Regions from separate parts of the Homo sapiens genome. Here regions 1 and 2 are each linked to region 3. The links come from fine-mapping of genetic effects on gene expression. A gene starts in region 3. Each other region holds a variant in brackets. All regions are shown on one strand. Distances are from middle to middle.

Region 1 (4,053 bases), 67 kb after region 3:
GGATGTCACAGTACACAGCCTCACACAGAAATCAGAGCACACATGTGGGCCTCACACAGACATCATGGCACACACAGACATCACACACCGATGTCACAGTACACATACTGGCCTGCACGGATGTCATAGATGCCACAGCACACATGTGGGCCTCACAGACATCACAGTATACATGACCTCACGGGCGCACACAGAAATCACACATGGACATCACAGCACAGACGTGGACCTCACGGGCACACACAGATAACACAGATGTCACAGCACACAGCCTCACACAGATATCACAACACACCCATGGGTCTCACACTGGCCTGCACGGACGTCACAGCACACAGGGCCTGCACAGATGTCACACACAACACCACAGCACACATACAGGCCTCACACAAGACATCGTGGCACACACAGACATCACACACGGATGTCACAGCACACACGTGGGCCTCACGGGCCTGCACGGATGTCACACGCCACAGCACACGTGGGCCTCACAGACATCACACACGGACATCACAGCACACACAGGCCTCATGGGCACGCACAGATAACACACAGATGTCACAGTACACACAGCCTCACACAGCACACATGGGTCTCACACAGGCCTGCATAGACATCACACGGACATCACAGCACACACGTGGACCCCACACAGACATCACACATGGACATCGCAGCACACACATGGGCCGCACGGGGACATACAGATGTCACAGCACACACACACGGGTATCACATGGCACACATGGGCACCACACATGGATATCACACCATACACATGACCTCACATGGACACACATTGATGTCAGTCATGGGCACGTACGCAGATAGATACCGGCATATGTGTGGGCACGCACATCAACCACGGTCTAGCATGTGCTCGCCCCTTGAGTCCCCTGGAGCTGGCTGTGTAGATCCTGCTGGGGCCGGGGTTCGGGCAGCCGTGGGCTTCCTCCGTGGTCACCAGCAGCTGCCCCTGGCGCTGGCCCTATCCCCGGGGAGTGGTTTGCCTTTCAGCGACCCCTCGCTCTTCATTTGCCCACTCGCTTTGCAGCCGCCTATCCTGGGCCCAGCACTGTCCTGGGTCCGGCATGCAGCGGTGAACCGGCCCCACACAGCCAGGCCCAGGTTGAGCTCAGAGCGGCAAGCGTGTGCATGTTTGTGCACGTGTGTGTGTGCGTGTGTGAGATCCTGGGAGTAGAGCCATGTCTTAAGGGAAAGTAGAGCTGGGAGAGGCCAGGTGAGGGGCCCCGTGAGGGAGGGGGAGCATCTGGGCGGGGCCCAGGTGTGGGGTGGGAAGGTGCTCCCTGAGAGGGTGGGCGGGGGTGGTGTACCTTTTCTGAAGACTCCCTGGACACCTTGGCCCAGCTGCCTGTCTCCCCAGATCGCGGGTTCCTCAGGAGGCCCCATGGGGATGCAAGGGCCTTGCCATGCCAGGGACTCCCCTTGACCGGCCGGCCCCCCGCTTCCCAAACATCCAGGCAGCCCACTCCTGCTGACCGCTGTCCTTGTCCCGCCAGCGTTTGGGGAATCGGACGTTTCGGGTGGTCTCGGTGAGGCGGCCACACCTAGGTTAGTGGGAGAGGTTGGTTCACGGATGTGCATGGAACACGTGCCTGTCTCTTCCTGGACACGTCTCTCACGGTCTTGCTGGTGCCCCCACCAGGACCCCAGGGCTGGCTGGAGCCTGTGAGGATCCCAGAGCCCTGAGGTGCCTGTTCCTCACACCTCTGCCCATCTGAGGCCTGGGCGGCCCCTCCTATGTCAGGGCCATGGCCCGCATGTGTGGTTTGTTGAGGGGAGGAGGGAGGGTGGGCAGGAAGCCCAGGTTGGGGCAGAGGTCGGGAGGGGCCGGGGACTCGGGGCTCTGTGGACCTTCAGATTCGTGGACTGCCTGCTGGCCTTGTCCAGGG[G/T]GCGGTGCCTCCGCTGTCTCCAGAGCAAGCCCACAGGACAGGAGGCGCCTCATGTGTGCCTTGCCTGCAGGTCACCGCCTGTCCTGCAGCCACAGGTCTGACACCTCACCTGAGGTGTACGAGGGACTGTGGGATGTGGGGGGGGTATGGGCTGTGTCTGTGTGGCCAGGGATGTCTGTAGTTCCCCTGGTAAGAGTAGGTGGGTGTGTTGCCCCCAGAGTCATGTGTCCTGTCTCTCCTGGGGTCGGGGTCTGTGGTCCCGGCCCTGAAGGCCCCGGGCTCTTCCCGTGGCCACTCTGAGGCCTGAGGGCGGCGCCTTCCCAGGCTGATTGTGGAGCTGGGCCCAACCAGCCCCTCCCAGGGCCCCGTGCTGAGTGGGGGTTGGAACACCCAGGTCGGGATGCCCTCAGAGGGTAGGGCTGTGGCCACCCCGTTCGTTAAGGACCCCACCTGCCAGGGCCCCCGCCCAGGCCTGGCCTGAGGAGTGTGGGTGGGGACTGCAGGTGCGGGGACCCCGGCGTCCTGAGGAGTGCAGGGTGGACCTGGCAGGTTGTGGGGGTTTACCATGGGCGTTCTGCCCTGCACTGGCCCAGGTCGTCCTGTGGGCTCTCGGGCAGGCCCCCCTGGAGCTGCTGGGGGGCAGCTGCTTCCCTCGCTCTCGGCGCGGGCCCCTCTGTCTGTGGTGATCTTGTGATGAACCAGGCCAGGTCAGCGCTCCCTCGGCCTCGGGAGCTGAGGAGAGCAGTTCTGTCCTTAGGGACACGAGCCCCCTGACGCTGCAGCCTCTACCTTGTGGACGGGACCCCTACCCCACCCCGGCTGCCCACCTGGCACCCTTGACTGCAGAACACCTGCGTCCCGTCCCCCGCCCCGCCCCTCGCCCTTGTCCCTGAGCCCCATCCCACCCTCTGTGGAAGAGCCTCATGCTCCAGGCGGGGCCGGTGCTGGGCACCAGCCACTCAGGCTCTCCCAGGGTGTGCATGTCCCCATCTGCCCTCTGCTGTGCACACACTGTCTGGGTTGTTCTTAGCGTGGAATCCGCGTGTGTGGTGGCTACAGGAATGTGGAAGCCCTGGGCAGCGTGTGGCTCACGGTGTTGGTGCCACTCGGCGCAGACTAGGGGGCGGCCGCTTCCTCTGCTCTACGAGGCTCTGGTGCCCGTGACTTACATCTCCTTCTTGTTTCTTTCTTTCCTCCCTCCTTCCCTTCCTTCCTTCCTTCTGAAAAATGCACTGTCTTAGGTGCACACAGGAAAACATTGTACACATTCACCCCATGAACCCACCAGCACGTTGACAGAGCAGGCTCCTGCACACAGACAGCTCCCTCGGGCCCCCTTCTCCCGTGGCGGCCCCGCGACGACCCTGCGAGGACCCGGGTCCCGCTTCCTAGAGCAGAGGGCCTTCCCCAGCTGTGCCGAGGTGGGATCACGGGCACGCAGCCTTCTGTGTCCGCCTCCCGTCAGTCGGGGTGATGCCTCTGGGTCTCACCTGTGTTTTCATACGACCCAGCAGTTTCTGATAACGGTTCCATCACGTGAACACAGCACGATTTGCTTCTCCAGACTCTTGGTGATGCATTTTGTAAGTTTTTGGCTAATATTACAAACAAAACTTGTGTGAACACATTTCTGCCCGTCTTTTTTGTGCACATAGACTCACGTCTCTTGGGTTTGTACCTAGGAGTGGAATTTCTGAGTCCCAGAGCAGGACATTGTTTCGCCTGGAAGGAGTCGCTGTTCTTCAGGCAGGGGCGCGGCGTCATGCTCCGGCAGCCGCGTATCCTTGCCAGCACTCTGTGTAATTCTAGCCCTTCCAGCAGGTATTTTGTGATATTTTAATTTTAACCTATAGTTTCCTGATAAGTGAGGAGGCTGAGCACCTCTTTGTGCCCTTGGCCACTCGGAGCACCTCCGGCCGTCTTTTTCGTGTTGGTTACGAAGCCCTCACGTGGTCTGCGTCAGGTTCTTGTCAGATCGACATGCATTGTGGATATTTTCATAATTTCAAAATTTTTGTTTTTTCTTGTTTACGAATATCTCAGGCCGTGGCTTGACTTTTCACTTTCTTGACCTCTCTCTGTGACGAGAACACGTTTTCAGTTTTTATGAAGCCCAGCGTATCACCCGTTTTTTAGG
Region 2 (4,053 bases), 40 kb before region 3:
AAAGTGCTGGGATTATAGGCATGAGCCGCTGCACCCGGCCTGCATTTTTAAGTTGAAAAATCTGAGCTAACAGCTTTTATGTCAGAGTCTAGGTACAAAGTAATCGCCTCACTCCAAGCCGACCTGCTGGGTGGGGCTGGGATGGCGGGAGGTGCGGCTCACCAGAGGCTGGAGGAGCAGCTACCAGACACTCCTTCCTCCAGGGGACCAGGGCACCCAAGCCACACAGACAACCCACGGAAAACACCAGAACTGCAAATGGCACCTGCCCCCGAGGGCTCTCCAAAGCGATTCTGGTTTACAAGGAACCCAAACCCTGAGGATTCCCACTCTCCCCAGATGCTCGCCCCCACGGACCCCGTGGCCCCAGCGGACCAAGAACGTGTAGTCTTCTCAACTGCAGTCCTTGCTGTTTGGCAGTGACGCCCAGCACAACCTTCCGAAGAACAGCCTCCCTCAGCCCACAGGCTGGACTCCCTGCAGATCCGGCCCAGCCCTCTCAGCCCTGAGCGTGCCACACACCACATGCAGCCACGATCTTTCCTGAGCCAACTCTGCGGGATGCACACAGGCCTACTCCAGGCCAGAACCCCACTCCAGTCTAAGGCTGGGCAACCAAGAAACCAAAGCAGAACATAACAGATCCCTTTCAAGCTGACCAGCGGGCACCTGCTCACCCCCAGGGCCCCCATTCTCATGCCCCCCCCCACACACAGGGTCACTGTCCCTCTGGCTGTCCTGAGGGCCTGCACCCCCATGTCCTGACCCTCACACGGGCCCCTGTGCACCCCACGTTCTCAGCCCTCAGGGCCCCTCTGCCAAAGCGACCCCAATGCACAGAACCAGGGGCCTCAAGTCCCATGTGTGAGTCAGCCCTGTGCTGTCCAGAACAAGGCATGTACCAAGGAACACAGGGCTGAGGAGGTGCCAGGCGCTCACGGTGGCCTTGGAGAAGATGCAGTGTCTCGCAGAGACTGGAGTTAGTGTAGGAGGTGGCCCAGCAGCCCCTTGATGGATAGCACGGGGACCACGTGTTGGAAGCACCACCAGGAGAGCCCGGGGCAGCAGGGAGTGGGGGGCGTCCACGCTTGGGACCCAGCCTGGGGAGTCCACATGGCTGACGCCCCAGGGCCTGTGCAGGGCCTGGGAGTCGGGGGTGAATCCACACGGCCGACCCCGCAGGGTGCATACAGGGACTGGGAGTCGGGGGTGAGTCCACACGGCTGACCCCGCAGGGTGCGTGTGCAGGGGCTGGGGACGGCCATCCGAGATTCCAGTGCCCATGCATCCCCCTCCTTGGAGCGTGTGGGTGGGCGTGGGTCTGAGTCCAGGAGGAGCCCCACCCAACCCCCTCATTCCATCTCTGGAGACAAGTCACCCTTCGTCACACGCCAAGACGTGCACAGAACACGGCCAACGGGCATCTCACCTCCTCCCAGAGCTGCTGAAGAGAGGAAATTTAATCTCCGTGGTTGACATCTACAAGATCTCATTTGCATGACCTGGTTTACGCGTCTTATCTCACCATCAATCAAACCCCAGACAGACATCATCCGCCTAACAAGCTGCCTCACCTCGCACCCCAGGTCCCTGATCCACAAATCCTGACCCCAAGACAGAAACAGAAAACCTAACAGTGGCGGCTGACTCTTTTCAGATCGTTTGATGCCAGCATTCAGCCCCAACACACAGAGAACTGCAGCCGAGATGTGGGGCCCTCAGAGCAGGTCCGGGGAGAACAGCACGGTATGCATCCACAGGACACAGGGGAAACAAAACCGTGACTTTTAACAAACTAAATGCAGCTAACATAAGAAACACAAAAACTTCCATTTTTCTTTAAAAATATAAACACACGGGCCAGGCACGGTGGCTCACGCCTGTAATCCCAGCACTTTGGGAGGCCAAGGTGGGCGGATCACAAGGTCAGGAGTT[T/C]GAGACCAGCCTGGCCAACATGGTGAAACCCCATCTCTACTAAAAATACAAAAATTAGCCGGGCGTGGTGGTGGGCGCCTGTAATCCCAGCTACTCAGAGGCTGAGGCAGGACAATCACTTGAACCCGGGAGGCGGAGGTTGCGGTGAGCTGAGATTGTGCCAGGCAACAGAGCAAAACTCAACCTCAAAACACACACACACACACACGGAAAGAGAGAGAGAGAGAAACACCCAGAAGACAAAATTCCTAAACTGTGCCTGGCCAGGCTGAGGTGTGGGTGTGCGACAGACGGCACGGAGCTGCTCACACAAAGCCCATGAAGTACAGGCCAGGTCCCAGCCGCCTGGGGTCAGGGATTCACTTACTCATTTACTAAAAATTAAAGGCGTTAAAAGTTAATCACTAGCAGCTCATACTTTTGCATTTCGCAAAAACCCACAAATGCCCCAGGCAGGGCGGAGCTGCAGCCACCCCAGCCAACGAGGCCCCCTGCCCGGCCCAGCACGCTGGCTCCACAGACAGCAGGACTCACCTTGCCTGCCCCAGTGGACCCAGAGGCTAGGCTGCTGGCCTCAAGCCCTGTAGATGGTGCCCGACGCTCCAGCGCCATGTGGACCGTGAGTTCAGAGGTGGACGGGAAGCTCCTGCGGGCTGGGACCCTGGCAGCAGGTGAGAGGGCCCTGCCTGGAGCCCTCAGGAGACATGTGGCCAGGCTTCTCCGCCTTCCCTCTTGTCCAGCCTCAGTGAGTGATACACAACACCCTCTGGGCTCCCAGCCAAACACCCGCACTCCCTCACCCCACAAACGTCCTGCCGATGCCCCACCTGCCACCCCAGCCCAGCTCCCGTGTGCCTTGTGGGTGGCTCCAGGGCCACGCTGAGCTGAGGCCGGACTTCCCTGACCAGGCCCTGGCACCTGGAGAACCACTCCCAAGACGGCCCCAGCAGAGGATGTAGCTCACACTGCGCCTGCCCCCGAGACACTGGGGTGTTGTTTGCCATGCCTGCCCGGCTGGCTGCTGAGGCTTCGAGGCAGCACGTGTCTGCTTGCGGGAGGAAGGACACGCACTTCCTGGGACCTGCCTGCTCCCCTGCAACAGACGAGGCCGCAGAGGGCACAGCTCTGAGCTCGGCTCAGACATTATGAGGTGGAGGCCCCGCGAGTCTCTAGGGCAGATTCTACCCAGAGCAGGGGGAACAAGGCAAAGAGACCCTACACGGAGCGGGGGGAACACAGGCAAAGAGACCCTACGCGGAGCGGGGGGAACACAGGTAAACAGACCCTACACGGAGCCAGGGTAACACAGGCAAATAGACCCTATGCGGAGTGGGGGTAACAGGTCAACAGACCCTATGCGGAACCAGCTGCCACCTAGATGAAGACATCTGTGACGGAGGGACTCCGGGATGGACACGTTTTGTTTTCAGACTCCAGGGCTGACAGTGGCCGGGGCCCTCAAGGAGACGGAGGCTGACTCGGGATGGAAGCAGACTGCCGCCGGACAGAGGCCAGCGACACAGGCACCGAGGCCACACGGAGGCCAGAGCAGAGCGGGAGCCCCTCCTCTTGACAGGGGGCCCCTGGCCGTGTCCCCGCAATGCTCACACGCCACTCTCCACTGGCCCGGGTCCCGAGATCCCCGCTTTAGCCCTCTCAGGCACAGAAGGGACCTCGTTGCAGGCCTGGCTCCCTCGTGCGTGAAGACGAGGCCTGACCTGCCACCATGCGCCCAGGTCAGCATCAGGAGCCGGAGCAGGACCCCGGGCCTCTCCAGGGTCCACGCAAGGGCAGGGACTTGCCGCGGTTCTGCCGTGCGTCTTGGGGACCACCCTCAGCACCTCATCGTGAGACGCCCACTTCTCCAAATGGGCCTTCTGTGGAACACTCGGCCACCCGGCCCACTGCAGGTGGATATGGAGTCGCGGTCGGGTTTCTGTGGGCATGGACAGGTGCCCCCTCCTGGCAAACACACCTGCTGGGCACTCGCCCGGGAGCTGAGGGCCAGCCAGGCCCACACACCCCACACAGCAACTCAAGCGTCACCGCAAGGCTTGGCCGCTCAGGAACCTCCATGAAAGTGAGTGAGACGACCTAGCACTCAAGGAGCAGCCCTGC
Region 3 (4,053 bases):
AGGAAAGCAGTTTAACTATTACCAGGTGAAGATCCAGTCCAGAGCATGCCAGCTGCTACCACCCTGCAGGAGGACTTGCTCTCAGACTAGAGAAGCAGAACATCCACCCCCCACCTTCCACAACCCCGGTCCTGCAGCCCTCGGTCCCTTCTCTGACATCTGCACTGGCCCCTCCTGGAAACTGAAGAGTGCAGCTCTTGAGCTGTGAGCTCAGCATGTTCTGTTTAGTTCTATACCAATAAATGCTTCTAAATCAAGGATCCCTAGTTTCCCAGCAAAACACCTCCATTATCCACTAGGAATCACTCCTGAAAACTTCTATGAAAAAAAGTTTTAACTCAGTAGTGACACAAGTGTCAACAGAGAAATTATGACACTATAATATTTCTTTACCTGTATGACTATCTGCATGACTATTTTAATCAGAAGCTATGCAATCACTCTGGAATACAAATTACATTCACGATTACAAAACAGCAGAAGACCTGAAGAAGAATCCTTTCCGGAGACCTTCCATCTCCCTTCCTAGTTCCTTCAATACACAATGAAAGGATTTCTGGAAACTTTTCCTATCTAGTGTTTCCCACATTCACCAGCCAGTACCAGAAGTGACAAACCACCACGGTTCTGATCTTCAAACCTTCTTGTGTGTTAGCTGAAATGACAGGCCTGGAGGTGCACTGCGTGAGACAAAGTGGTCAGTGGTTAGGACTCCCTACTAATATCACCACAATGTCCTTGTATAGACTTCTCTCAGCTGCAGGGTCTCCATCTCTAAACCAACAGAGATCCACCAATGTCACTGAGTATTAAAAACCAACCACCTACATCTTGGAGGGATCTAGCAAGAGGCTAGACCTTTGGTAACGTCAGCAACATTGCCCTCCCTTCCTTGATCAAAAGAAGTGCTGGACACACAAGCACCATGAAACCCCACTGCGAAACCATTAGTGTGGCGGGCGCGTGGCTCACACCTGTCAGCCCAGCGCTTTGGGAGGTCAAAAGGCAGGAGGATCGCTTAAGTCCTGGAATCCAAAACCACCCTAGGCAACAGTGAAACCCCGTTTCTTTTTAAAAATATGAAATAAACCGCTAGTTAATAAAGAGGAGGAGAAGCTTGCTTCTGCTTTCCTATGAAGACCAGCTACAGCAGGGTACAGCCTGACTTCAGCAGCGCTAACTGTAGCAGGGACCTTTTAATGAATGCTAGGCACTGTTTGAAACAATACGTGGTCACTCATTTCACCCTGAGGTGACACAGGCGCTACCACTGCTTAAACCTGACAAGAATAAACAGTCACCAACCGGGCCCTGATGTCTCCCAGTAAGGACGAATACAGAGAAGCCTGATTCACACCCCAGCAGGATGGCTCACAGCCTGTGCTCTTCAGCCCTTCGCTGAACTGCCCTGGGGCTGGGGGAACGCACAGCAACCTGGCCATACTGCATCCTCCACACCTGTCGCCACACCGTCCGTCCTCAGACGGACGTGAACACCAGGGCGCTCTGGGAGGAGAGAGAAACTACGCAGCTCTCCAGGAAGGCAACACAGAACCACGAAGCTCAGCCGCAGCTCTAGGAAAGCTATGACCTTGATCTTTTAAGGAATTCCTTCCCAGGTGCTTCATATCAAATCCTCTACTAACTAGGTAAAGAACAAGTATCGGCTCCTTCTACTAGGAGCACAAATTTCATTCTAAGAAGTGCGACGTGGCTAGGTGACCACCCAAGGTCACGCAACCGGCAGCCGGACGGCAAGAGCTGTATTTCAGGTTTGGTGACGCCCATCAAAAAGGTCGCTGGGTGCCATCAGGCCGTGAGGTTTCTCCCTACAGTTCCTAACTAGCGACCGGCGCAGCCGGCACCTCCCAGCCCTGGGCTCCCGGGAGGGCGGCCGGGCACTGGCTGGGCACGCCGCGCACTCCGTCTGCCTGGGCGCCAGAGACCCCACGCCCCGCAAACTCCGGCTTCCACCCCAGCCCCAAATTCGCCACCCTTAGCGCTGCCAGAGTCGTCGCTGGCTCGGCTCACGCAGCTCTTCAAGCAGAGGGGCCACAGTCGGGCGCCTGGCAGGGCCAAAGCCGCCGCCCCCGCCACACCTGCCCGGCGCGGACCGGGCGCCCCTGAGAAGCCCGCACGGCCCCGCGAGGCCGCGCCCAGCTCCCGCCGCCCTCGCCGCTGGCCCTCCCGGGGCGGCCCCTCGCGGCCCGAGGGCACTGGCTGGAGACGCCTTCGCTGCCCTCAGCCTGCGCGGCGCAGGCGCCCACCTTGAGGGTCGGGTACTCCTGGACCTTCAGGGTCATGGACAACTGAGCCGCCGACTCCTGCACCGCCATCTTGAAGCGGCCAAAACATTAGCGGGCGGGGGACGCGCGAGCGCGCTGCACGCCGGGAAATGACGCCACGCGCCGGCCGGAGCAGGATGGGGGCGGGCCGATGCCCCTGCACCAATCGTATCCGCCCAGTCGGCCGGAGGCGGAAGAAGGCGCGAACCAATCACTGCCGGGTTTCCTCTCGTTCAGCCAATCAACGATAGCCCCGGCTGGCGGTTTCCACCTTGAATTCGCTACCGGGTTCAGGCCGCAGACGCCGGAGCTGGGGATGCTCCTGGCCCGGGGCGGGCCGATGGGGTGCGGGCTGCGGCCCGGGCGGGTGGAGCTGGGGCCGAGCGGGCTGGGGGACTTGGCGTCCGTCCAGTTACTTGGGGCTCCCGCGGGGTGGTCCCCTGTGGGTCCCTCGTGCCTGCGGTACCAAGGGCAACGCCAACAAAACGCCTGGCCGCATGCGCCTGTAGCCAGCTATTTTTCTTTGGCCTTATTTTGACCGATTTACAGCTGCTGGAATCCTGATGTGGAACCTCCGACTTCCCAACGGAAGAGGAAAGGCCCAGTACCTAAAACTGATTTATGGACAGAAACTCCCGAAGCATGAGAAGCGTGTGGCCTCTCCGCCCTCTCCTTGCAGGGCGGGCAGCGCTGGCATCCAGGTCGTGCGCTGCCTTCATTTCAGCCACTTCACATTCTCAGCCTTTCAAACACCACCCGTCTCCCTCCTTTCCAAAATAAAACTGAAATTAGATTTTATTAATTAGGAAATGACGTCCCAATTAAACCACCTTGTGTTTCACATAACACATTTCTAAACAACTTTTAAAATATTTGGTGTTTAAACAAAGGAAAAACATCTAAGGTGACACAGCGATGAAGGGAGAACCTCCGCTTGGAGGCTGCTACATGTTACAGCCGCAAGACATCCGACCCGCACTGTGGAATCTTTCTCTGTCTTACTTAAACAGGAGTTGGGACTAAGGAAAGTGTTATTCCTCAAGTGTGTGGCTGCAGACTCCAGTCTTTTAGACATTTGAAGTAAGTTTTACAGTGAGGTGCACAAATCTTAACTATACAGCTTTAATGAATTTTCACCCATATTTGCACTTTTATCTAACCGTGTCCTGGTTGAGATTTAGGACATTTCCCGTGGCACAGAAAGCTCCTCTGCCCCTTCCCGGGCTATATCCCCATCATTCTAACCCTGCTCCCCGTAACAGCGTTCCTGACCTTCCTATAGAGATGGAAGCATGCACTCTGTACTCTTTGCGTCCTTTCACGGTTCGCATCGTGTCTGCCACTCTCCGGGATGGTCCCAGTAGTACACAGGAGCACTGCAGCAGTTGGATGGACTGCACTCCTCTTAGAGACTGCCTTCACTTCACCAGGGATTCAAGATTAACCCAAAGGAAAGGACACGGGTTTCATTTCCATGGTAAAATGATCCTATCCTAGTACCATCTACAGTCAGAAATACTTAGGAATTATAAGGCAGAGGTTTGCACGTTGGAGAGGTTGTTTAACCCTCTACAACCTTTGAGTCATTCATTCTAGGTTTTCTTATGTTGGAAGATAAAACTGTATTTGAATTAGTCCTTTTGTAAACCAAAAAGTGTCTGAGACAGATCTCAATCAGTTTAGAAGTTTATGTTGCCAAGGTTAAGGATCATGACCAGTGACACAGCCTCAAGAGGTCCTCAGAACACATGCCCAAGGTGGTTGGGTT

Evidence for each region. PIP is the estimated chance that this variant, and not a neighbour inherited with it, causes the effect.
Region 1: its variant is fine-mapped to the expression of MAEA in whole blood (TOPMed, PIP 0.95).
Region 2: its variant is fine-mapped to the expression of MAEA in thyroid (GTEx, PIP above 0.99). The same link has a PIP of 0.9 or more in spleen, testis and visceral fat.

Annotation. Positions count from the first base shown.
Region 1 is chr4:1,220,944-1,224,996 of GRCh38, reverse strand. All of the region lies in intron 5 of CTBP1 (C-terminal binding protein 1), which reads left to right. Among named protein-coding and RNA genes, the nearest start is that of CTBP1-AS, 13 kb to the right of the region's middle. The variant G/T (reference allele first, on the strand shown) is at 1,917.
Region 2 is chr4:1,328,420-1,332,472 of GRCh38, reverse strand. The region is part of intron 5 of MAEA (macrophage erythroblast attacher, E3 ubiquitin ligase); the gene reads right to left. Among named protein-coding and RNA genes, the nearest start is that of UVSSA, 17 kb to the left of the region's middle. The variant T/C (reference allele first, on the strand shown) is at 1,936.
Region 3 is chr4:1,288,197-1,292,249 of GRCh38, reverse strand. MAEA (macrophage erythroblast attacher, E3 ubiquitin ligase) reads right to left here and starts at 2,359. Exons shown (of 9, transcript NM_001017405.3): 1 at 2,268-2,359. The coding sequence starts at 2,336. LOC105374347 (a long non-coding RNA gene) reads left to right here and starts at 2,679. Exons shown (of 3, transcript XR_925046.3): 1 at 2,679-3,365. LOC105374346 (a long non-coding RNA gene) reads right to left here. Exons shown (of 2, transcript XR_925043.3): 2 at 3,956-4,053. RefSeq lists silencers at 778-960, 2,049-2,328, 2,429-2,838.